Homo sapiens: one gene and its partners. The protein of the gene in region 7 purifies or fractionates together with the protein of the main gene of each other region. This does not show direct contact. Each region holds a gene or a part of one and is shown on either strand. Other genes may lie near its edges. The genes, in order: AMY1A, RBMS2, FARP1, NAA25, CKAP5, LARP4 and AKAP1.

Evidence for each region.
Region 1: the proteins of AKAP1 (region 7) and AMY1A purify together in Homo sapiens (affinity purification with western blotting, with the first as the bait; one study listed by BioGRID). This does not show direct contact.
Region 2: the proteins of AKAP1 (region 7) and RBMS2 purify together in Homo sapiens (affinity purification with mass spectrometry; one large-scale study listed by BioGRID and IntAct). This does not show direct contact.
Region 3: the proteins of AKAP1 (region 7) and FARP1 purify together in Homo sapiens (affinity purification with mass spectrometry; one large-scale study listed by BioGRID and IntAct). This does not show direct contact.
Region 4: the proteins of AKAP1 (region 7) and NAA25 purify together in Homo sapiens (affinity purification with mass spectrometry; one large-scale study listed by BioGRID and IntAct). This does not show direct contact.
Region 5: the proteins of AKAP1 (region 7) and CKAP5 purify together in Homo sapiens (affinity purification with mass spectrometry; one large-scale study listed by BioGRID and IntAct). This does not show direct contact.
Region 6: the proteins of AKAP1 (region 7) and LARP4 purify together in Homo sapiens (affinity purification with mass spectrometry; one large-scale study listed by BioGRID and IntAct). This does not show direct contact.

The regions. Positions count from the first base shown.
Region 1 is NC_000001.11:103,654,263-103,658,559, forward strand, and holds the start of AMY1A (alpha-amylase 1A precursor), read left to right. Parts: upstream 1-1,497; 5' UTR 1,498-1,666; intron 1,667-2,022; 5' UTR 2,023-2,068; coding exon 2,069-2,236; intron 2,237-2,581; coding exon 2,582-2,728; intron 2,729-3,531; coding exon 3,532-3,729; intron 3,730-4,177; coding exon 4,178-4,297. UniProt on the Homo sapiens protein: Calcium-binding enzyme that initiates starch digestion in the oral cavity.
Region 2 is NC_000012.12:56,587,820-56,591,319, reverse strand, and holds part of RBMS2 (RNA-binding motif, single-stranded-interacting protein 2), read right to left. Parts: intron 3,027-3,500; coding exon 2,946-3,026; intron 2,389-2,945; coding exon 2,308-2,388; coding exon of another isoform or gene 2,302-2,307; intron 2,181-2,301; coding exon of another isoform or gene 2,059-2,180; 3' UTR 2,043-2,058; coding exon of another isoform or gene 1,834-2,042; 3' UTR 1-1,833.
Region 3 is NC_000013.11:98,447,094-98,450,593, reverse strand, and holds part of FARP1 (FERM, ARHGEF and pleckstrin domain-containing protein 1), read right to left. Parts: exon of another isoform or gene 2,359-3,500; coding exon 2,277-2,358; 3' UTR 1-2,276. UniProt on the Homo sapiens protein: Functions as a guanine nucleotide exchange factor for RAC1. May play a role in semaphorin signaling.
Region 4 is NC_000012.12:112,074,284-112,077,783, reverse strand, and holds part of NAA25 (N-alpha-acetyltransferase 25, NatB auxiliary subunit), read left to right. Parts: intron 1-1,994; coding exon 1,995-2,106; intron 2,107-3,019; coding exon 3,020-3,109; intron 3,110-3,500. UniProt on the Homo sapiens protein: Non-catalytic subunit of the NatB complex which catalyzes acetylation of the N-terminal methionine residues of peptides beginning with Met-Asp, Met-Glu, Met-Asn and Met-Gln. May play a role in normal cell-cycle progression.
Region 5 is NC_000011.10:46,742,548-46,745,280, forward strand, and holds the end of CKAP5 (cytoskeleton-associated protein 5), read right to left. Parts: intron 2,031-2,733; coding exon 1,879-2,030; intron 1,719-1,878; coding exon 1,476-1,718; 3' UTR 501-1,475; downstream 1-500. UniProt on the Homo sapiens protein: Binds to the plus end of microtubules and regulates microtubule dynamics and microtubule organization. Acts as a processive microtubule polymerase. Promotes cytoplasmic microtubule nucleation and elongation. Plays a major role in organizing spindle poles.
Region 6 is NC_000012.12:50,477,195-50,480,504, forward strand, and holds the end of LARP4 (la-related protein 4), read left to right. Parts: 3' UTR 1-2,810; downstream 2,811-3,310. UniProt on the Homo sapiens protein: RNA binding protein that binds to the poly-A tract of mRNA molecules. Associates with the 40S ribosomal subunit and with polysomes. Plays a role in the regulation of mRNA translation.
Region 7 is NC_000017.11:57,119,045-57,121,844, forward strand, and holds the end of AKAP1 (A-kinase anchor protein 1, mitochondrial precursor), read left to right. Parts: intron 1-1,205; coding exon 1,206-1,280; 3' UTR 1,281-2,300; downstream 2,301-2,800.

The DNA of each region.
Region 1 (4,297 bases), on a different chromosome or scaffold from region 7:
ATTTTTCCAGTTGAGTAGTTCAGCAGAGGTAAAAGGGTGATACACAAAAGCATGCCTTTCTACCGTATGTCTGACCTCATCTGTCCTAGTATATCGCTGCTCTCTCAGGGCATTTGAATTCCCGTCTTGGGCCGTTAAGCGGGCTGCCAGGGAAGTGGATTTTCCCGCAGTTTCACTTTTGTTCTTGTCTACTCTGGGTGGTCTAGGGGCTGTGGGCTCAGGAGAAGGGGGCCTCCCCACTGGATAAGGGGTTGAGGGCACTGTTGGTGCCATCTCCTGCCTTGAGTCCTCGAGCTCTGGGTCAAACAGAACTTTAGGTGCTGGCTTCTCTTGGCCGGTGGAGCGAGAACTTTCCTGAAATAAATGTCCCTTTGCTACTACTACTGCTGCTGCCTGTCCTTTTACCACTGTAGAGGATCTAAAACTAGCTGTAACTAGGAATCTCTATATGGAAATTGATATGGGTGCAGGCACACCATGAGCGATCAGGCCAAGCTTCCGCTCAGGTGGAGTGGGGCAAGTTGAAAAGACTTGTCTTACTAAGTTTCAGATGTCTGGACTCCAAGTGCCAGTTCCTTCCTGGTGTTCAGCCACTGTGTTAATCCTCCGCGGGGATCACTGCTCTGGCGAGGCGTTCAACCGGGGCCATTTCCTACCTGGGAGCGCTCTTTGGATCCCATCCCTCAGGCTGGCCAGAGTCCCTGGCAGCCTGAGGGATGCCCCGGCCTTACTCCACAAGGCATGCCTAATCTGCCTAAGGAGCTGCCTCGGCCGTCCATCAGTTATCTTGCTTCCAGGTCAGGGAACCAAGAAATGTAGCAGGACAAGCGGCAGACAAAACTCTCAGACACCGAGTTGTAGAAGGAAGGGTGTTATTCACCTGGGAGCATCGGATAGCTACTGTCTCAAAATCCGAGCTCCCCAAGTGCACAATTTCTGTCCCTTTTAAGGGCACACAACACTAAAGATGTCACATGAAAGGGTCGTGATTGATTTGAACAAGCCAGGGATATGCGACAAGGACTACATGCACCCGTGGTCAGGGAGAAACAGAATATGGAAGGGAGTTTCACAATGTTCTTCTATACAATGTCTGGAATCTATGAATAACATCGGCTTCTAAATCATAAGTTGATTTGTAACTACTGGGTTTAGGCCAACCAGGCCCAGGCCTGGTTTTGTGCCTTTGATTTTGCTTCCTTGTTGTTTTTACTGAATAGAAAACAATATAAAACAAGAGGACAGGGTCTTTCTCTCTTCTCAATATCAGCACTGGATTGTAGAACTTGTTGCTGATTTTGGCCTGGCATTCAAGTTAACTCTTCCCCTTGGTATCTGTACATACCTTTGATGTCAGTGTTTAGTACACGTGGCTTGGTCACTTCATGGCTAAAAACGTGCTTGTGGAAGACAAGTCTGGCTTGGTGAGTCTGTGTGGTCAGCAGTCTCTGATCCGTGCAGGGTATTAATGTGTCAGGGCTGAGTGTTCTGAGATTTATCTAGAGGCTGGGAAGGGCTCCTGAACCAGTTGTTTCCGTCTTGTCGGTCTGTCAGGGTTGGAAAGTCCAAGCCATAGGACCCAGTTTCCTTTCTTAGCTTACGTTATCTACCAGAGCACCGTGGGCTGTTACTTGCCTTGAGTTGGAAGCGGTTCGCATTTATACCGGTAAATGTATTCATCCTTTTAATTTATGTAAAGTTTTTTAGTATGCAATTCTCGATCTTTTAAGAGTTGACAACAAATTTTGGTTTTCTGCTGTTATGTGAGAACATTAGGCCACAGCAACATGTCATTGTGTAAGGAAAAATAAAAGTGCTACCATATGCAAAAAAAAAAAAAAAAGAAAAGAAAAGAAACATTAATGTCTAAGAGGTCATTGAGATGATTTCCATGAGAGACTTTTTGATGTTCTTCACCAGTTAGGATTATTATTGATAATCCTTTTCAGATTATGAATAAACAGTTTGCCCTCAAGTATTTATTCATGCTACTATTTACATTGTAAAATGTGCTTCTTACAGGAATATAAATAGTTTCTGGAAAGGACACTGACAACTTCAAAGCAAAATGAAGCTCTTTTGGTTGCTTTTCACCATTGGGTTCTGCTGGGCTCAGTATTCCTCAAATACACAACAAGGACGAACATCTATTGTTCATCTGTTTGAATGGCGATGGGTTGATATTGCTCTTGAATGTGAGCGATATTTAGCTCCCAAGGGATTTGGAGGGGTTCAGGTGGGTATGATTCATAGTATCAATTGCAGAATTCACTGTGCTTGTAGTAAACACTATTCTGATCTTCTACGTGAAGCTTGGGCAACATTTTACTTCACAGGTAAGTATTCTAAGTAAAAGAATTTTCTGAGGAAAAAACAATGTAGTATTCTTTGCAACTGTATATTTTGTTTCTGATATAATCTTTCTTCAACAAGAGCCCTCCGATGTGCTGTTAATATTTTCAAGAGATAGCTGCCTATACCAAGATTCAAGAATCTTTTGTATTATTGATTAGATTCTAGAACATTCAATGATATACAGTAAGACAGAATTTGGTACTTATGAAGACTGTTTAATTTGTAGGTCTCTCCACCAAATGAAAATGTTGCCATTCACAACCCTTTCAGACCTTGGTGGGAAAGATACCAACCAGTTAGCTATAAATTATGCACAAGATCTGGAAATGAAGATGAATTTAGAAACATGGTGACTAGATGCAACAATGTTGGGGTAAGTGAATTCTAGTTTCCTTTAAAAATAACAGATAGGAAAATGATTTCTGTCTCTTCTTTCTTGCTCCTTTTGAGCAGAAAGTTTTCCATATCAGTTTTAATTTTACTTCATACTTTAAAACTCAAAAGTAACTGTCACCTTATGTTCAATTTTTGAAAATATTTGTATATGTGCTCTCTACTAAAGAGATAAGTTAAAGTTTATAGCAGAGTTTACTTCTGAAGCAAAACATCAAATTTTAACCGCTATAACTATCCATATTTCCTGGAAGGATTTTCTGGTGAGGAATTTTAATTCCAGTTACAATATTTGCTCTCATTTTTAGATGACTTGTGTCTCCATTCCTAATTCTTGGGTTTTTTTTGTGGTGAATAGGTAGCTTATCTATTTAATGAGGAGCAGAATTTGAGATGAATAGCTACCTTATTTGTCTTCCAAGCTTAGTAGAGAGTACAGGCTTTCTCCTGGTGACCCACTGAAATTTCCCAAATAGTAACCTTTTCAGTCTCATCTGAGTTGTGTCTCCCCAAAATGGGCTTTTTGCCTTTCCTCCTATTTATGGTAGTTTCCGGTTCTCTCAGTTTATCATTCCTATATATATTTGGCCAAGTGTCTGGAATGAATGTAGGTGTTTAGTTCACATTACTTTCCTTTCACAGTTGATTTTTGATCTTGTAGGAAAATAGTTATAAGGTATGAAATATTTTGGAATTTTATTAGCACACTATAAATTTAATCAATAATTCTTTAAATTTCTGCCTCTCTGTAAGTCACACTGAATTAGAAACTTTGTTTTCTAGGTTCGTATTTATGTGGATGCTGTAATTAATCATATGTGTGGTAATGCTGTGAGTGCAGGAACAAGCAGTACCTGTGGAAGTTACTTCAACCCTGGAAGTAGGGACTTTCCAGCAGTCCCATATTCTGGATGGGATTTTAATGATGGTAAATGTAAAACTGGAAGTGGAGATATCGAGAACTATAATGATGCTACTCAGGTAATTTTTTTACGAGAGTGATCTGAATAAGGAGTGATATATGCCTTTTGTTGTAGACATGTAGCTAATTGAACTTCGTTGTAAATATGAATTTAGATCTCTTAGGGACAGAGGTTAACAAGTTTGACTACTTTAAGAAACTCAAATCCATATTTGAAAACCTTTAAATATTGATTTAAGATTTTTAATCAATACACATTTGTCCACTTTTAAAAAGCTCCCAACCAATTGAAAAACTCATCGACTTTATTTCCTAAGTTCTCTATTTTCTATTAGAAAATATTTCCAAGATACATCTATAGTAGAATGTGAGCATCCCCAGTGTCCAATGCAAGGAAGTCACCATAGAATATCTCTTGAGGAATCATGGAATAAATGAATAATCAAATGGATTCTCAGGCGAAAAGTGAGGTTTTATTAATCAATCATAACATTCTTACCTCAACAGGTCAGAGATTGTCGTCTGTCTGGTCTTCTCGATCTTGCACTGGGGAAGGATTATGTGCGTTCTAAGATTGCCGAATATATGAACCATCTCATTGACATTGGTGTTGCAGGGTTCAGAATT
Region 2 (3,500 bases), on a different chromosome or scaffold from region 7:
TGGGAAGGGAGGGAAAGCTGGGCCGAGCTCTACTTGTGACAACTGATACTACAGTTTCTTTTCCCCTGCTGTCACCCCCTTCCTCTCCCTATGGCCAGCCTAATGAACACCTGTCTCTCTATCCTCCATTATTTGCCTTTGTCTGACTGTCTAGTGGAGAGGCACCTGGCCTTGAAGTGCAAGGGAGTCAAATTCTCCTTTCAGTGCATAAGGGAGTGACTGGGAGAAGACAAGAGCAGGATTTTATTTCCTAGAAGATGGGTGAAGTCTTTCTTCAATCTGTCTCCATGTGTATAGAGTCACATCTTGCAGAAGGGGACAGTTAAAGACCAAGACATAGGCTTTTTTAAAGGACTCCTGACCTCATAAAGAGTTGGAATTTATTGCTCTTTGCTACCCTAGCTCCCCGTTGTCCTTCCACAGAAGGAACATTATTTCTGATGTCCTGGTTCCCTGGGCAAAGGGTCCAAGCACACCGGGGCAGGGCAGGTTGCTCTGGACAGTTTAGAGAGCTTTGTCCTTTCCCACCATTGCACAGCACACACCAGAACAATGCCCACCTGAATCCCTCTGAGTACATGTGTGCATTCAGCATGGAGCCACAGCTCTTTCAAGAATCACTCTTGCTATATGCAGAGTTATCAAAAGTCAAAGTCTGGGGAGAATTCAAGGATCCCAGTCCAGTCCTTCCCCAACAGTTGCATGAGTGTCAAAAGGCACTGTTTGTCCAGGGTTGGGGTGAAAATTTACCCTAACCCAGGAGGCAGGGACAACACTGTCTATATCAGTGTTTCCCAGTCTTGGCAATATTGACCCCTGGAGTCAGATAATTCTTGGCTGGGGGTAGTGGGGACTATCCTATGCAGTGTAGGATGTTTAGCAGCCACTAGATGCCAGTAGCACACACATCCCACCTCCAGGCGTGGCAATCAAAACTGTCTCTAGATGTTGCCAAAGGCCTGAGGGACAAAACCACCTCTGATTGAGAACTCCTGGTCTGTGAGTGAAGCAGCAGATCTTCCACCGTGTGGAAGGAGCCTATGTGGATTCAACTAGGTCGCAGCTGCAAAGGCTCTGAGCACAGCAATGTGTAACAGGGAAGAGAGGGGCCATGAAGCCCAGGACAGAAAATATCCTCCAGGAGGCAAGAAAGCAGGTACTCCCAAAAAGCTATACCTCAGATGCTGTTGGCCTTGGCAGTGAGAAGAGTTGATAAAAGTCAGTAAGTCCATTCTTCCGGAACTTGCCAGGGAAGACCTAGTCTTCAACCAAGTTTGGCTCAAGGGTGTGTTCCCAGGGCTGTGGAGTTGTCTCTTTAGTAAGCCTGGGTCACATCTGTGCTTTCTGAAGCCAAAGTCTAGTTTTTTCTCCCAGGGTGTGGCAGGGTGGGGGAAAGAACAGCCACTTCCATGGCCTACTTAGTGTTCTGCCTTGTTCCTTGCCCAGCCTGCCCCCCAACCCCAAATTCCACATGAAATTTCATTTTTAAAAATCCATAAAATTAAAAGCTGTAAAAGGGCAAAGTAGGCAGGCTCAGCTGTTTAGAAAAGAGAAAAAGAAGAATCTGGACAAGAGAAAGAAGGCATAATATGGGTGAAGAGGAGATGGGGTGCATGAGCTGAGAGCTTTACAAAATAACATTTTTAGAGCCTGCATACTTTTTAAAACACATACACACATGCATCAAAAAAGTCCATAACTAAGCTCAGTAAGTAGGGCTCCTTCATCGATGTTCCAGCACCACACCTTTCTGTTCTGTTTTGGTTTGTAAAGAAATAATTACAAATTGTTTTAAAAGCATTCCCAAATAATTCCAATACATCGAAAACTTTTTCATATAGATGAGAAGCTGCGACCACCATGTCTCTTCAAGGTAGGGGAAAAGTACGTTGCAGTTAAAAACAAAAAGCTTTCTTTGCAAAAGAAGAAAAGTTTTTTTGATCTCCTTGAATGTAGCACACAAAAAAAGTGATGGTTCCCCCAGGCTCCATCAGCAATAGTAAAGGGCAGGAACGTAGAGATTTCTTTTTCCAGGCCCAGGCCTGTGAAAAACGATGGCTAAGTGTTAGTCCTTAGCAGGGCCGACGGATGGTCTCCATTCCTGGTTAACCCTCTGGAATCTGGGAGCATGAGTATCTCCAAGAATTCATTTCTATTCAGTAAAGATGGGGAGGGGAATCCTAAAGAAGGCACAAGCCAGAGAGGAGACAAGACAAACATGAGAACCTGTCTGACTTCAGGCCGGGCTGAGCTGCTGTCTGCCAGTGCAGCCCTCCCTGCCCCCCAGCATGTGGTTCTTACCCACTGTTACTTGTTGAACTGGAAAGAATAGACCCCATGCTCTGAGGGTGCGTCCACTGCCACTTGGTTCTGTTGGCCGCTGCTCTCCTGTGCCATAGCCAAGGAGGGGGGTCATCTTGCGCATTCCTTTCCTCACCTCCACTACAGCAGCCTGACCAAAGCCCACCCTACATCGAGTGCCCTCCCAAACCTACCCACTCTCCACACTCATGTGTGAGTGTTTCCACCCACACCACCACTTCCCCAACCTTCCTACAGCCTGTCCTCTTCCCAAGACGCATTAGTCAATACAAGCCAGCATCCTGGTGTCAACTACTGGCTGGCCAAATGTAAGGAAGGGCCTCATTCATGAACTCAGACCAAGTCCTTCTTTCCTACATCTGCTGTTGTTTTTTTTTTAAATATGGAACGCTTCACAAATTTGCATGTCATCCTTGCACAGGGGCCATAATCTTCTCTGTATTGTTCCAATTTTAGTATGCATGCTGCCGAAGCGAGCACATCCTTCCTACGTTCTTCGTATACCTACCAGCTATTTGTGAACACAGAATCAGCATCATTGTGAGAGAAAGATCTTGATCAGGGGGAAACCTGCCTCCGTTCATTTTCCTAATCTCAATCCAAAGAAATGATAACACCCTTACCTCGACTGAAACACTGGAAGAAGGCACAGGGGTGTACTGGGAGATGTAAGCTCCTTGCATAGCTGCAGCCGTCGGCATATACTAGAAAGAGAAACATCAACAGGCTTACAGCAGTGATTTTTGGCTACATTTGAAGCAGCTGAGGGGCTTTAAAAAAAATACTGACACCTGTATTCTACCCCAGAGATTCTATTTTAATTGGTCTGAGCATTTGCATCTTAAAAGCACTTCAGGTGGTTCTAAAGTACACTGTTAGGGAGACGTCTCCCTATATGACTTATTTTCCTCCTCTTTCCTGACTTTCTTCTGCTTTTCCTCAACACACTCCCTTCTCTACCCTTGAGCCCTTTCTATGCAAAAAGGAATGCAGTAGGCCTAAAAGAAACCTAATGAGCTTCCTCCATCCTTCCAGGTACTATTTTGATGAGGATTCCTAGGACGTGTGTGTATCTTAAACTAATATGCAGACAGAAGCACTATTCACAAGGTGCATGAGTAGGAATCAGTTAAAAGGGGTGGGCTGGGGAGCAGAATGGCTGTATTCCTGGCTCATGG
Region 3 (3,500 bases), on a different chromosome or scaffold from region 7:
CGTGGACTGGGTGGCTGGTAGCTCCTGCGTTTTTGAGCTGTGTCCTGGCTGGCTGCTGCCAATGAGGTGGACACCAGTGTGGTTTGGGGTGCACTGGCCACTTCTTGCTGGGTTCTGATTTTCTTGGAAGTGCATCTGCCTTCCTTATCCAATAGTTTTATCCCTGCATTGCTCTTGTGAAGTGGCTGGTTTGGTTCTGTATGTAGCATTTTGTACCTTTCCTCTGGCAAAACACTGTCAGTTTATAAACATTTTTTATATTTCCCTCCTTTAAAAACAGCTTGTGTATTTCTGCTATAAAATGTGTCAGCAAAGGCAGAGTGACCTAATAGGGCATGTTCTTAAGCACAGGGACTGTATCATGCAGGGGCCAATAAAGCTCAAGAAAACGAGTATCTGCATCATTGTGTGTCTCATGTGTAGTGTGTCTCAAACTCCACTCAGATGGACTGTTACCCACACTAGTATTTTCTTGAGGGCACACAGGAAGCAGAGGTGCTGGTCACAGGTCAGAACCACCAGTGTCCAGCAAGTAGTTTGGAATCAATCAATCATTCAGAAATAAATAGCTGAGGAGACTGCCTTGTCCCCAAGTCTCCAGGAATGAGTGAGTGGTGACTTCTGGAGGGAGCCTGATGCTGCTGTGTGGCCCGGAGCTGTTTGTTTGCTCTGCCCCTGCCTGGAGGTGGGGGGAGCATAGGGAACAGTGGGGGGCAGGCCCTCCCTGTGTCACTCTGAACACTGGGGCTTTAGAAACCCTTGCTGGAGTGTCCCCTTCCCCCCTCCCCCCCCACACAGAAAATGAAGACTACAGACAAAGTTGGTTGTTTTGCCTTAAAACATCAATATGCTGGATTGTGGCGTGAGGTATTTTTATTCCCTTTGTTAGTACTGGAAACCGTCTGGTACATCTTGTAAGGCAAATGATTAACACACGGCAGGCTCTTCGTCCGTTTGCAAGTTGCTGTTTGTTTCCAGCTACACCAGTCAGAGCTCCACAGAGAGGGTGCGTTCCTGGTTCTCAGGTGGGCAGGTGCTATGGTGCGGGGCGCTGGAAAGAATGGGGTTGAATTGGCCCTCGCCTCCGCTTGTTTGAGACTCTCGTTAGAAAGGGCTTAGGAAAACCAAGGGAATGGCAGCCACCCCATCACCATCGAGAACAGGCAGACGTTTCCCGAGTAGGGGCCAAAGCCACTGGAAACCGTGTTCCCTGTGCAGTCCGACTGACACTACCCCATGCCTGGGGGGAATGAGTATAAAAAGGGAAATGTTTTTGAAGACAGGCACGATATATACTACTAGAGAATGCGCAGTTTCAAACCACAGTTGCAGGAGGATATAGGAATAACGACAGGTGCCGGGGACTACGTACCATGATTTCATAGTGCTCTGCAGCCAGCAGGCTCACTAAACGCTCATCACGGAACATACCACAAATGGTGCTGATCAATGACACACGGGTTTTCATGCTTGTGACACAGACAGACAGCAAAACACCACGGCTTATTATCTTCCCATTGTGTACACCACTCACAGGACGGTGACAGTCCAGGTATTGCACTGGATCTCGGCTTTGCTTAACAGAAAACAACCCTGCTACGGTTGGAAAGAGTTACCACTTAAAACGATTTGGTCAACTTGCACCAAGAAGTAGGTTGGGAACAGGTGTTTTCAGGTGAGCGTGAAACCCCGCAGTGGAACGCTGTGTGCTGCAAATTGCTTATTAATCAGAGAAGTGAGTCCTACTAACTTCCTATTATTACAAAAGTAGAAAGACTGAAAAAAAAAATGAAATCTGAAAATGATCTCATTTGCTTAAGGCTGCACTGAGTGTATTGCAAACAAACAAACAAACACCGGGAAGTCCACTTCGTAAAATGCAGCAGCCAATAGGTGAAAATAATAAAAGAAAGAACTTTTTTTAGGAAGAAAAACACTTGCCCTGTCTTGTGTTGAACGGATGTGTGTGTACTGTTTTTCAGGGGCAGGGTGGAGGGAAGATGTCATTTGGCACTCTCGTAATGACAATGTTTTAATACTGGCACTAGCTAAAGAACAGCGCCCCCAGCGGATGCCAGGACTGGAGGTGGGAGCGCTGTTCATTCAGACGCTGAGAGGTCGGGGTTAAAAAACGCGGCTGTGGAGACAGGAGAGCTGCTGGGAAGCCATGTTTTTGATTTTCAGACAGGTGTTAATTTTACCAGGCTTCATTAATACAGAAGAAAGGAAACGTCTTCCAGGAAAGCAGCCACTGCGGAAACGAGTGTGTCCGGCCATCAATACACAAGAGACTCTTTGTGACTCAACACGTGGGGTCGCGAGGCAGAGCTGGTGGCACTGCGGATCACTTCCATCCACCTGCAACACGGGAACGCCAGTTAGTCAACCTTTTGTTTGGACGGACTCCTGACACTTTGGTGGGCATCGCTTACAGAAACACAAGGTGAAGTCAGGCCGCCTGGTTGGTAATCTGCCACTTCAGCAGAAGAGCAAGGGAACAGCCAGCACCCAGGCGTTCCTGAGGTACAGTGGAGACCCACTGGCCTGGGCACTCACTCAGTGTGGAGCTGGAAGTACCTTGCTGCAGTGACACTGCCCGCTCCATTGGAGCAGTTAGGAGCGAGGTGGCCTCTGGTTGCTGGGGAGAACGCTACCTCCTATTTTCATGGACATGGCAGAGAATGGCGGGACGTGTCCCATCCTGCTTAGTGGAAGCTCTCCCTTCCTTTTTTCTTTTTCTTTTTTTTTTGAGACAGGGTCTGGCTCTGTCACTCATACTGGAGTTCAGTGGTGCAGTTATCGCCCACTGTAGCTACCTCCTGGGCTCAATCGATCCTCCAGCCTTGGCCTCCCAGGAGATGGGACTACAGGCTTGCACCACCACGCCCAAATCTCCCTTTTTATATATTTGTGTATTTGCTCTCTACCGGTGCTTCTCAAATGGGTGCAATGCTGTCCCATTTGGTAAAGTCTGGAGACATTTTTAGATGTCCCAACTGAGGGGTTGCTGCGGGCATCTAGTGGGTGGCCAGGGATGCCGCTGAACATCCTGCACAATGCAGGACGGACTCCCCAAATTACCTGGCCTTGTCCCAGGCCTTTCAGGATCTGGACTGCAAGGCTGGACCCTTTGTCACAATAATAGCAAAATCCCAACTTTGATCAACCCAGCTCTCAACCCAGCTCTCGAGCTCAGTCCAGGATCAGATTTGAGAATGGCTCTCCTCTAGGTTCCTTTTTCAGGTGATGTTGTTTAGGAGGTGCTCAGCATATTGCTGAGGACCCCTCCCCTTCTGCCTCCCGGGGCGAGGAGGGCTCAGCAGGGCAAACTGCACAAGTAGTCGGCTTGGGGATGCAATTTGCAGAGGCCCAGGATCTCTATTCAAAATATGAATTGCAGGAACAGTCTTAGGCCTGACTGTTGCATTTCTTTCTTGGCTAAATGAAGTCTGCAGTCCCTGCCATTACACCATGTAGGCAGTCTCACTGGGGCTTAGCTT
Region 4 (3,500 bases), on a different chromosome or scaffold from region 7:
TAAATTAATTAATGCCCCTCTAGTCAGGATTTGTACTCTGTAGATACCGCAAACATTCCTTCTTTATTTGTATGTCTGTCTTATGAAGGCATTTGAGTTTGTGACCTCTGCTGTGCATACTCTTATACCCATACTTTATTTTTATTATTTATTTATTTATTTTAAAGAGATGAGGTCTCACTGTTTTGCCCAGGCTGGACTTGAACTCCTGGGCTCAAGTGATTCTCCCATCTCAGCCTCCCAAGTAGCTAGGACGACGGGCACACACCACCACACTGGGCTCCATTATTTCTTTCTTTCTTTTTTTTTTTGGAGACAGAGTCTCACTCTGTGGCCAGGCTAGAGTGCAGTGGTGCGATCTCGGCTCACTGCAACCTCTGCCTCCTGGGTTCAAGTGATTCTCCTGCCTCAGCCTCGTGAGTAGCTGGGACTACAGGCACACACCACCACGCCCAGCTAATTTTTGTATTTTTAGTAGAGACGGGGTTTCAACATGTTGGCCAGGCTGGTTTCAAACTCCTAACCTCAAGTGATCTGCCTGCCTCTGCCTCCCAAAGTGCTGGGATTACAGGTGTGAGCCACCACGCCTGGCCTCCATTATTTTATTATTATTATTATTATTTTAACTAAATAGTATTTCCTAGAGATAAAGTTCACTACCTCACTCCTTTAATAACTGTCCAGTGTTCCACAGTGTGAATGTAGAAATTTACTTAACCAGTTTTTGATGGATATTTAGGCTACTCACAAGAAACTTCTTGTTTTTTTTTGTTGTTGTTGTTGTTTTTGAGACAGGGCCTTGCTCTGTTAGCCAGGCTAGAATGCAGTGGCATCATCACAGCTCACTGCAGCCTTGATCTCCTGGGTTTAAGTTATCCTCTCACCACAGCCTCCTAAATAGTTAGGACTCCAGGCGTATGCCATCAAACCTGGCTAATTTTTATATTTTTTGTAGAGGTGGGGTCTCAATATGTTGCCCAGGCTGGTCTCGAACTCCTGGTCTCAAGCGATCTGCCTGCTTCAGCCTCCCAAAGTGCTGGGATTACTACAGGTGTGACCTGTCAGGCCTGGCCCTTTTTTTTTTTTAAACTACATTATAGCTCTATGGATAGTAAAAAGTTAGATTCTCAACAGGAAATTCATAATGTAATTTTTGGTATCCTTAATCTGCTAAACAGTTGGGCAAATCTAATTTGGTCAGAACTATCATCCTAGTTTTTTTGTTTTCAGTTGTTTGGAAAGATTTGATTCCTCTCCACTCTTTTTTGTCTTCTTCCAACATCTCATCTTTCTTAGCTCATGTCAGCTCAGTCCTCTTTGATGTTTTGGAACTGTATGGATGGGCAGCTTGTCTATGGACTAAATTTACTAGTCCCTAGATGCTGTTGGGATTTTATAAGTATATCCCATGTACTATTAATAGATGTTCAACCCAATACATTGTGAAACCTATCCTTTTACAAAGAAAATGATTATAAAAATTTACTGTCAGTAATGTACTTTTTTCTTTGAAGTAAAATAATCTTTAATAAGATAGTAGTAGTTTGTATGTAATAGTGGTCCCATTTTCTAAGAGAGTGAATAAGAAAATGTGACATTTAGGCCGGGCCCGGTAGCTCACAGCTGTAATCCCAGCACTCTGGGAGGCTGGGATGGGTGGATCACCTGAGGTCAGGAGTTTAAGACCAGCCTGGCCAACATGGTGAAATCCTGTCTCTACTAAAAATACAAAAATTAGCCAGGCGTGGTGGCAGATGCCTGTAATCCCAGCTACTTGGGAGGCTGAGACAGGAGAATCGCTTGAATCCAGGAGGTGGAGGTTGCAGTGAGCCAAGATCGTGCCATTGCACTCCAGCCTGGGTGACAAGAGTGAAACTCCATCTCAAAAAAAAAGAAAAGAAAATGTGACATTTTCCTTCTTGTGGTTGGACTCTATTCTGGTTATTGAGCAGAAATGAAACCAGCTTACCAACTTTTATAACTTTTGATTTTAGAGAAGTTGACAAGTGAGATTCAGAGTCGGGAAAATAAATGCATGGCTATGTACAAGAAGCTGAGCAGGTGGCCAGAGTGCAATGCCCTTTCCCGGCGCCTCTTACTAAAAAAGTGAGTAAAAGCTTTCTTTTGTACCATTTGACTGTAGTGAGGCTTTAAGACCTCACTATTGATTTTCTTGGTGTCTGTGTTTTGAAGTTTCTGGGCATAAAGTCTTCTTATAGTAGTTGTGTCCTGCATGTTTCTAAAAGTTTTTAAGGAGCCTTCATCTTTCAGTAGAGTATTATAATGGTACTTGTAGGCTGGGCATGGTGGCTCATGCCTATGATCCCAGCACTTTGAGAGGCCAAGGTGGGCAGATCACTTGAGGTCAGGAGTTTGAGACCAGCCTGGCCAACATGGCGAAACCCTGTCTTTACTGAAAATACAAAAATTAGCTAGTTGTGGTGGTGCGTGCCTGTAGTCCCAGCCCCTCGGGAAGCTGAGGCACAAGAATCGCTTGAACCTGGGAGGCAGAGGTTGCAGTGAGCTGAGATCATGCCACTGCACTCCAGCCTGGGTGACAACAATGAGACTCCATCTCAAAAAAAAAAAAAAGATACTTGTGCCACCATGGTGCTGAATTCTAGTTAGGGCTTAAGAATGAACACTGAAAATCATTAATTTCTCAAATTCAGTATTCCCCTAAAAGAGAGAGGCTTCATTCTTTGCTACAACACTTCTCTCCCCTTCCCTCTATTTTGGAAGTGCTTATGTGGGGACTTTTCTGTTATGAATATTAGTTTTCTAGACCTGGTCATTTTATTGAAGGAAAGAGTAGTTTACTACTCTTTACAAATACAAAGTAGTATTACTTTGAAAATGCCCTTTTAGATTTGCAAAGGAAACATGGAGTGGGTGGGGGTAAGCCAACCTACTACATACTAAAATATAACTTACAAAATAAATTGAATATCATGGTTCCTAAGGAAGATCTGTCACAACTTGGGTTTAATCCTGTGTGCATCATTCAATCTGATTTTAGCTCAGATGACTGGCAGTTCTATCTGACTTATTTCGATTCTGTCTTTCGACTGATTGAAGAGGCCTGGAGTCCTCCTGCTGAAGGTGAACAGTAAGTTGTCTTCTTTCCTGAATTATAACAGCACTTTTTAATATAGTGTAGTGAAAGGATTTCATTATAAGCCAATTGAATTCTCTTTTTCTGTCTCAATAAAGTATTCCTTTCAAAGTAAGACATTTTTTCATATTTTTTAAAGTATAAAATACACAAGTTCATTCTAAAAATCATGTTAGTGCCAAAATATGTGGTGTGCTAATTTCCACTTATCCTACCATTCCAAAAATAACTCTTGTTAATAGTTTGGTGCCTTTCCGTGAGATTTATTTCCATCTTTATGCTAAGATAATTTTTCTTTTTCTCCTTTTTTTTTTTTTTTTTTTTTTTGAGATGGAGTTTGGCTCTTGTCACCCAGGCTGGAGTGCAATGGCACGATCTTGGCTCA
Region 5 (2,733 bases), on a different chromosome or scaffold from region 7:
AGCTAATTTTTGTATTTTTTTGGTAGAGCCATGTTGCCCATGTTGGTCTTGAACTCCTGGGCTCAAGTGATTCACCCACCTTAGCCTCCCAAAATGCTACGGTTGTATGAGTGAGCCACCAGGCCCAGCCTTTGTAGCCATTCTTTCTAAATATGTCTTTCCACTATAGCAGCAAACGCCTCCATCATCCCTTCAGTGAACAAATACCCACTCCCATGTTCCCACTATAAAGGAGAGACAAGTTTAATTTCAGGAGGCTCCGGGGCCACCTGAAAACGATGACTGGAACCTTTACAGGATTAATCTTCCATCAATCTTTCATTTCTTGGACATCAATTGAATTGAAGGTGGGCTACAATAGGAAAGTTCCTTTGAACTTTATAACTGCCCAAAATCTCCTCCTGAATCCAGAACCTTTTCATCCTGAAGAGTTTTTCTGACTGTGGAGGGAGGTCCTGTGGAATTTATTCCAGAGGTGAATACTCAGCTCACTTTCTCATCCTTACTCTGACTGAATGTGAAGCAACTGTTAGCCTGGACCAAAAGAGACTCATACAACCAAGCAGCAAACCACTAAGATTTCCCAAACTCCATTAGTCAAATGAACACAAATCTAGTTGTAGTGTGAGAACCACTGAAGCCCAGCCAATCTCTGGGCGCAATCTTGTGTGCCTTTGGTCAGCAAAGTGGTAGGATGCCCAAGAGCTTCTTGAAACGACTGGTGATAATTGGAGGGAAATCATGACCAAAATCTCAAAACAAGGAAGGATGAGATTTTTCTGCTCCCTAGGAGCTGTTTGTGGAGAGCAGGGAAGGAGAGTTCCTTCCATTCCAAAGGAATAAAAGACAGCTCCAAGTCTGTGAGCCAAGAAAAAGGGAAGCTCTGTAAGCAGTAATTAACCTTTCTCTAACTGGCTGAATACCCAGCTGGTACCAAAAGTTAAAAAATTGCTGCCCAACACTCCATGATATGGAGCATCTTGGGAGTCAGGTATAGTTAATGCAAACTTTATTTATAAAAGACTCTTAAATTAGTTGTATCATGCCATGCATTCATACAGAATACAGTGACCCTTCAGGGCGACAGAGAAGAGCTCACAAACTGAAAGGAAAACTATTAAAGAGTTTCTAATATTAACTATTAAAAAGCTAGGAAAGATTAGGACAATTTTACAAATGAGCAATTAAAAAGAAAAGAAAAGGATCTGGGAACTAGACTGAGCAGAGAGGGGGCAGCTGTTTACAAGTCTGTACACTAAACTCATCCACGGACAGTCTTCTAGAGCAGCAGGACGCTGACAGAGAGAAGCAGAGTATGTACAAATACTTGTGCCACAATGACTCCTCCCCCTAGCTCCACGGCATGATACATACAACCAGTTTGTATACACTAGGCCTGCTGAGGCCATTTTAAACTATGAGGACTTCTAGTTTAGTAAACTAAAGCTGCAGGGTGCCGGGGGAGTGGGGCAGCTTCATTTGCGACTGCTCTTTATTCTCTCCAGTCTTTTTTTCAAGTCGTCTATGTTAGCTGTGGAGGAGGAGGAGGTCACAGTTCCTGAAGAGTGAGTCTGGTTAGAATCCAGGTCTGAATGCTGGTGCTGCTCCCGTGACTCCCGGAGCTGAGAGAGTTTGCTGTGGAGCATGTCTGTGGAAGAGGCGACAGTAGGAACTGCTGGTTTGGAGAGCAAAGAGGTCAAAGGAGGTCGGTCATCTTGCTATTGAGAGAAGGAGAGAGATTGTCTAAGGTCAGGTCAAGCAGGTCAAGATGCAGCTCCAGAACTACAGCAAGACTAAGCCACTTCTCTGTGGGCCAGCCTGCCTCGGACCTGCTTGTGACTACCCTCCCTGAACTGCACAGAAGAAAAGGAGCAGTACCTTTGTGTTGTCCAGACCACATCGCTGTCGGAGGATCTTTAGCCTTTCCAAGTAGACAGATGGCCCCACTTCTTCCCCATTTGTGTTACCTATGGAGGACACTGTGCTTGTGGGCGTGGGCACACATGTGACTTCCATCTGAGGGGAGATGCCTAGAGGGGAAAAAGTAGAAAGAATATTCAGATATCCACATATCCCCCTTCTAAAGTGCCTTGGTTAATCTCCCACCAAAAAGAACAATTAAGAATTTCCTATACTTGAAAACGACAAATTCCACAAGAATCTACCTGGAGTTGGTGATAAGGGTGCTCTGAAATATACAATATAAGCTTCTTGAGAATGCAAAAAACTGATATAGAAAGGCAGAATGTAAATTGGGTCATCCATCTGCATCCTGGGTTATGCAGGGGATTGTACTCCAGTAATCCCAGGGCTGACTTGGGCAATCCAAAAAGCTGAAGCTACTCCTAAGCATACTGTAATTGCCCAACTGAAAAACCCGAGGACCTTAAATGTTTGGAAGAATTAGATTAAGTTTGGACCAATGTCACATAGGAGAAACTCATTTGAACCTGTGAAGGAAGCAAGGTGTCCAAGGCTATGGTGTATTCATGGGGAAGAGAAGGTGTCCAACAATTATCTAAAGAGGGCATAGAACTGGAGTGTCTGTAACCCTACCACTAAGATCAATATTCTGGCAGGAGAGAGGAAAACCAAAACAACAAAAAATCCATCACACTTCCTAAATTTCTGAGAATGAACAATGATACAATGCGGGCCTTTAAAATATTTCACTTGGTATCAATGCAAATGCATTCCACAGGCCCCAAAGGTAAGGTACTGGGAGGAAACACT
Region 6 (3,310 bases), on a different chromosome or scaffold from region 7:
ATTAGTGCATAATTTCTCAGTGAATAAAGTTGTAGCTCTCATATACTAAATAGACAAGTTTACATGCTGTTATTTAGAAAATGACTAAAATATTAAAAACCGTGTTGTGTTAATCTGTTTTAAGTCATACCATGTTCAGAGTTCTATGTAAGGTGGGTTTTATTTTTCTTTTAAGGGATAGTTTGTAATAGTAAGAACTGTCCCATATGTTAGTAAATTACATATGTACAAATTGAAACTGTAAATTGTGAACACTGGAAAGCACCATTGTGACATAGAGTAAACATCTTAGTAATATATTAAAGTGAATGTAAATGGTGGTTAAAATTACATTACTGTGAAATTCATCTTCCAACTCTAAGTTAAGCTTTGGAGATACATGTTAGTGGTTAACTGTTAAGAGCTTTGAAAACACTGCACATATCTGTACAAGCCAGAATTACTATTTCTTTGACTTATTATTAGCTTGGCAGTTGCTTTTGATTTGATTGTTTTATGACATGGTATACTACTATATTTACTCAGTTTGAAACTATTCATTTCTACACACTATTTTTAAAAATTGCCTACTAGGTGAAACATAACAATAAAACTACCTGTGCTGAAATTTGGGGGAAGTTTAGGTCCTTTAAAAAAACATATTAATCATTGACTACATCTATGATAAAAGTGCTTATTTTGGTTTACTAAGATAATGCAGTTGGTGGAAATGATAAACGTTTTAAGTGTTAACATCCTTTGAATGCGTTGGATTTCAGAGAATAAACATTTTGTAAAAATCACTTGGTAAGGATTATAAACTTAATTACTGCACTTAAAATGAAACATTACTTTTTTTAAACAATGTGTCACAAATGTAGGTCTGTATTACTTGTATGCTTGTGTGACTTACTGTTAGTCCAGCTCTAAAAATTTAAAGGTTGTAATTGAAATACAAGAAAAGAGCCTTCTTTTAGAAGAAAGCAAGTATATTTTTGCTTTTACTTCAAATGTTATTTAAAGTAGAAATTTAATTTGTAGATATAACCTTTAAAAATTTTCTCATTAAGACAATGTTTTTAATTTAATTTGCCTCATTACATCTAATAGTTCCCATTTGATGGCATGTATAGGGAAGAGTGAGAGAGTGTGTGTGTGTGTATGTGTGTGTAATATTTATATATATTCACAGTATGTATTTAGCATTTATTTTATTACAGCAGATTTAAAGTTTGTATCTAAATAATGCCTATGAGTTGTGTGAAGCTCTTGGCTTTTTTCCAACGTTACTTTGTAACTAATGAGGGTGGATGTTCATTGTAGTTTATTTATTTGGTTCTTTAGATGGAGGAATTTAAAAAATCAAATTTTTCTCTTCACCTTTATGACTTGACATTTCCTTGATCTGTTGGAGGCTAAAAGTAGGTATAAATGATATTGAATGTTGGGTATAGTGATACTCTGCCATAGTTCTTACTGCATGAAGAGAACAAGAGTCACACAAGTTCACCACTTTGCACTTCATAGAGAAGGTACATAGAGACATTGCAAAACCTGTCTCCATTTGCTATCCTGATAATTAAGGTTTTCATAATACCTAGGGCCTGTCTCTGAGTAATTTTAATTTTGCCAAATACACTGACATTTAAAATAGTGATCCATCTAAATTTTTTTCAGCTGGGTTTTGAGGAATATAAGAGCTTTCAATGATAAAGGTTTGTTGTAGTTGTCTTATGTGCTGAATTTGCAGATGATCAGATGCTGTGCAGAATTCTGATTTATTTTTGTTTCCTAAAATTAAGATAGCTTGAATATTATTTCACATTCCTTTTTCTTTTTTAAATAAACAGGTTTGCTTTGGAAAGGCTTAATGATGGAATGTTAGCATCTTCACTAGGGTAAAGAAGAACAAAAAGAATGTTGCTGGAACGTAAAATAGTATTTAAAAGTTAATGAACACTTCTCTAGTTTTCTTAGTTATGGCCTTAATAATTAGTCTCTTGGCTTAAATGTCCACTGGTTTTACTTTGACACAGTTGAACAACACTGGGGTTAAGTCTCTGGTATTTAGGCTGGCAATATATATATTAACCATATTTTAAAAGTACCAATTTTGTTTTTACAGAAAAGATAAAACTCAAAAGAGAACAGTGTATTCCTTCTGAGGGGCTTTTATAAATTATTAACTATAATATATGATGGATTTTTTCCTAATTTTTTATATTTCCTTACAATTTTGGTGGCCATTAATTTAACTTTAGGCTTTTGGGCATATGCTAGTCTGAGCTTCCGAAAAGATACATATATGTTTCCCTTTTCATTAGCTGAATGAGGATATTTTAAGAAGTTGAAAGAGAATTTATTTTCAAGTTGTGAGTAAATCCTCCTTTGAAATTCACCTGATTATTAGATAACTTAAAGTTTATTTTTAAAAGCTGACAACTTTTTATGAATCTTCGAGTTGACAGTTCCTAAAAGCGTAACTCAGATATTAATGGGCTGTGTATTAAATGGTTTTATTTTCAGTTTTGCAGCACAGAACACTGTTGAAATATCCATATCAACTTGATTTTTTTAACCTAATTCAGGTGTCCTTTGCATCTCTTAAATGTTGGGGGTGGGGGTCAGAGCCAGTTATCCGGCTTCTGTTTTGTCGATTGCTTAGATTTGTTCCTGTTGTCAAAACTGTTACCCCCAAAATTGGTGTGACACATGCTCATGCATAAAATGTTAAAATGAGTACATCCTTGTATTTGTATTTGTTTTCAACATCGCCAAGGTGCTATGGGAAATTAACAAAATTAGAAAAAAAATAAAATTATTAAAAAGCAGGACTGGTTTCCTTTTCTCTAGGTGGTGTATGTCTAATGACTACTTCTGTCTACCTTTCAGTATTATATGTTGCCCTCGCTAATTCTATTATTATTATTGTCTAAGTTGTTTTTTGGATGATGAGGGCAGTGGGAAGTAATGGTGTTTCACTTAAAACAAGGGCAGAGAGACAAGATACAGCTTTATGATCCTGGGGTATTCTTTTAGTTATTTTAGTATCAGAAGCAGTTATTAAAGGGTGAAAAATGGCTGGGCGCGGTAGCTCACGCCTGTAATCCCAACACTTTGGGAGGCCAAGGCGGGCGGATCACCTGGGGCCAGGAGTTCAAGCCCACCCTGGCCAACATGGTGAAACCCCATCTCTACTAAAAATACAAAAATTAGCCAGGCATGGTGGTGGGCACCTGTAATCCCAGCTACTTGGGAAGCTGAGGCAGGAGAATCGCTTGAACCTGGAAGGTGGACATGGCAGTGAGCCAGGATCGCGCCATTGCACTCT
Region 7 (2,800 bases):
GTAAGTTCTGCCCTTCTTTTCCTTCTGTGTTGCTGGCCCGAAGTAATGGATTGATTAGGAGCTGGTCCTGGGATTTGTTTCCTCTTGAGTTAATCAGAGGATATAACTGTAGACAAGCACCTCCTAGGGAACACTTTGGATGTCCTGATTGGCAGTGGTGATGTCAGTGTCCTCTAGTGGGTAGAGGCCAAGGATGCCACTAAACATCCCATAGTATTCAGGACAGCCCCCCACAGCAAATAATTATCCAACCGCAAATGTCAATAGCGCCAAGGTGGAGAAACCCTGTGCGAGACTTTCTGGGACCTTCTGTCTGTTGAGTTTTTCTGTCCTCTATCTTATGGTATGAAAGCTTAGATTTCTTCAGCATATTAAAAAGCCTATCCTGGCCAGGTACAGTGGCTCACCCCTGTAATCCCAGCACTTTGGGAGGCCGAGACGGGCAGATCACTTGAGGTCAGGAGTTTGAGACCAGCCTGGCCAACATGGCGAAACCCCCATCTCTACTAAAAATGCAAAAATCTGCTGGGTGTGGTGATGCACACCTGTGATCCCAGCTGCTTGGGAGGCTGAGGCAGGAGAATCACTTGAACCTGGGAGACGGAGGTTGCAGTGAACCAACATTGTGCCACTGCACTCCAGCCTGGGTGACAGAGCAAGACTCTGTCTCAAAAAACAAAAACAAAAACAAAAAAACCCTATCCTTATGCCACAGCAGCCAACAGAATACTTAAATAAATGTTCCTGTTGGCTAGAGCATAAGCCATGTCCCCCACCCTGTTACTCTTTTTTTTTTTTTTTTTTTTGAGACAGTCTTGCTCTTGTTATCCAGGCTGGAGTGCAGTGGCGTGATCTTGGCTCACTGTAACCTCCGCCTCCGGGGTTCAAGCGATTCTGCTTCAGCCTCAGTAACTGGGATTACAGGTGCCTGCCACCACACCTGGCTAATTTTTGTATGTTTAATAGAGACGGGGTTTCACCATGTTGGCCAGGCTGGTCTCGAACTCCTGACCTCAGGTGATCCACCTGCCTCAGCCTCCCAAAATGCTAGGATTACAGGCATGAGCCACTGCGTCTGGCCTACACTGTTACTCTCATACATCTGTTGCCTGCAGTGGCAACCGGGGAGGGGAGAACTCATGTTGGCTAGGGAGATGGCCCCAGGATGCCATGGACAAAAGCTTTAAGGGAACTTTCTTTTCTAGGTGGTGTTGATAAACCGGTCCCTGGTGGAGCGAGGCCTTGCCCAGTGGGTAGACAGCTACTACACAAGCCTTTGACCCCCATGCTGCTTCCTGAGAGTCTTTTTTTGCACTGTTGAAATTGGGCTTGGCACTCAAGTCAAAGATGAACATCGGAATAACAAACATTGTCCTCTCCAGAAAGTCCTTTCTTTCTCCATACTGTAGTCCTATTGAGAAGACATTTCGTCTCTGAGAAAAAAGGATGGAACTATGGGTTCTCTTCGCAAAGCCAAAGGATAGTGTTTAACAAGCCAGCTGGCTTATGCTGGTTCTCAGCTGTTTAAAAAAAAAAAAAAAAAGGAATAGAAACAGTTTCAACCAGATTGTCCTATTCCCCCTGTTCCATTCCCCTCTTCTTCCTTCTATCTCCTTCCCCGGCAAAAACCAAACAAACTGGCAGACAGGCCAGGGATGTATGTTGCTTGCTTGAGAGGGTTTCTTTTACTTCAAAATCTTTCTTCAGGGAGCAAGACATGAACTGACTAATTGGTATCCACTACTTGTACAGCTTACATAAATGAGTTGATGATATTTAACCAGTTTTTATAAACTTCATTTAGGTCTCTAAACACAGACTTTTTAAATTGCAACTGTAAATATGAAATGGTCATCACATCTGACCTTGGTCAGTGGGGAGGGGAACTGGTATCCTGCCAAGCCTGGTTGTAATTTGTAACCATTTTCTATTTGTGCAAACTCTGTAAATATGTGTTTAAACAAATGTAATATTTTGTACAAGATACACTGGAGAACAAAGGGAACTCAAGATTCTTCCAGCCACATGTCACCTGTAGGTAGAAGTAAACTCTGCAGTGCAGCTTCTGCTCTTGGCCCCTCTGGCCAGGGCCCCTGTGGCTTCCTGCACACTGGACAGGTGACTGTATGGTAGAGACTGTGATCTGGGAACTTTTTGCTGTACAAATCTGTTTAAAAAAAAAAAAAAGTAACTCATTGAATTAACTTGCAGTGGTGTGTTTGATTCTTTTTTAGACTGGCTTCAGCATTGTGCAGTTTAAAAATAAGTAAGTAACTTACATAAATCTTCAATTGTATGAACTGCAGCTTTGAGTCCATTTTTTTCCAGTGGTGAAGAATTGGCGGGGGGGGGGTGGTGAGTGTGGCGAGCTGGATCACAGGCCCCACACAACTGCCTCTGCAGGAGACCCATGGTTTTTTGAAGACAATTTGGCCAGAAATTTCTATCTGGCCTTTTCCTCTCTCTCCTTGTCCCACCAGGTGGCAGCCAAGCGTCCTCCGACTTCTTCACTGCATGTTAACTGGCCAGACTCAGTTTAAAGCACTGGCTTCCAAAACGGGTTGTGCCTTCTTTGGTTGTCATTCTTAATAGATTCGTGAAGTTATTTAATTTACTGTAGTGATAAGAATGATGTAAAAAATACATGTAAGTTATGGGATGAGATACTGCCTCAATTTAATAGCCCCTGCTCTTAAAGAAGGCTGGCCACTGCAGCCCAGGCCTACCCCAGTGCCCCGCCCCTGCCCCCTACGTTTGAGGCCTCTGGCTGCAGGGCTGTTGAGCTTGAGCTCTAGTTTTT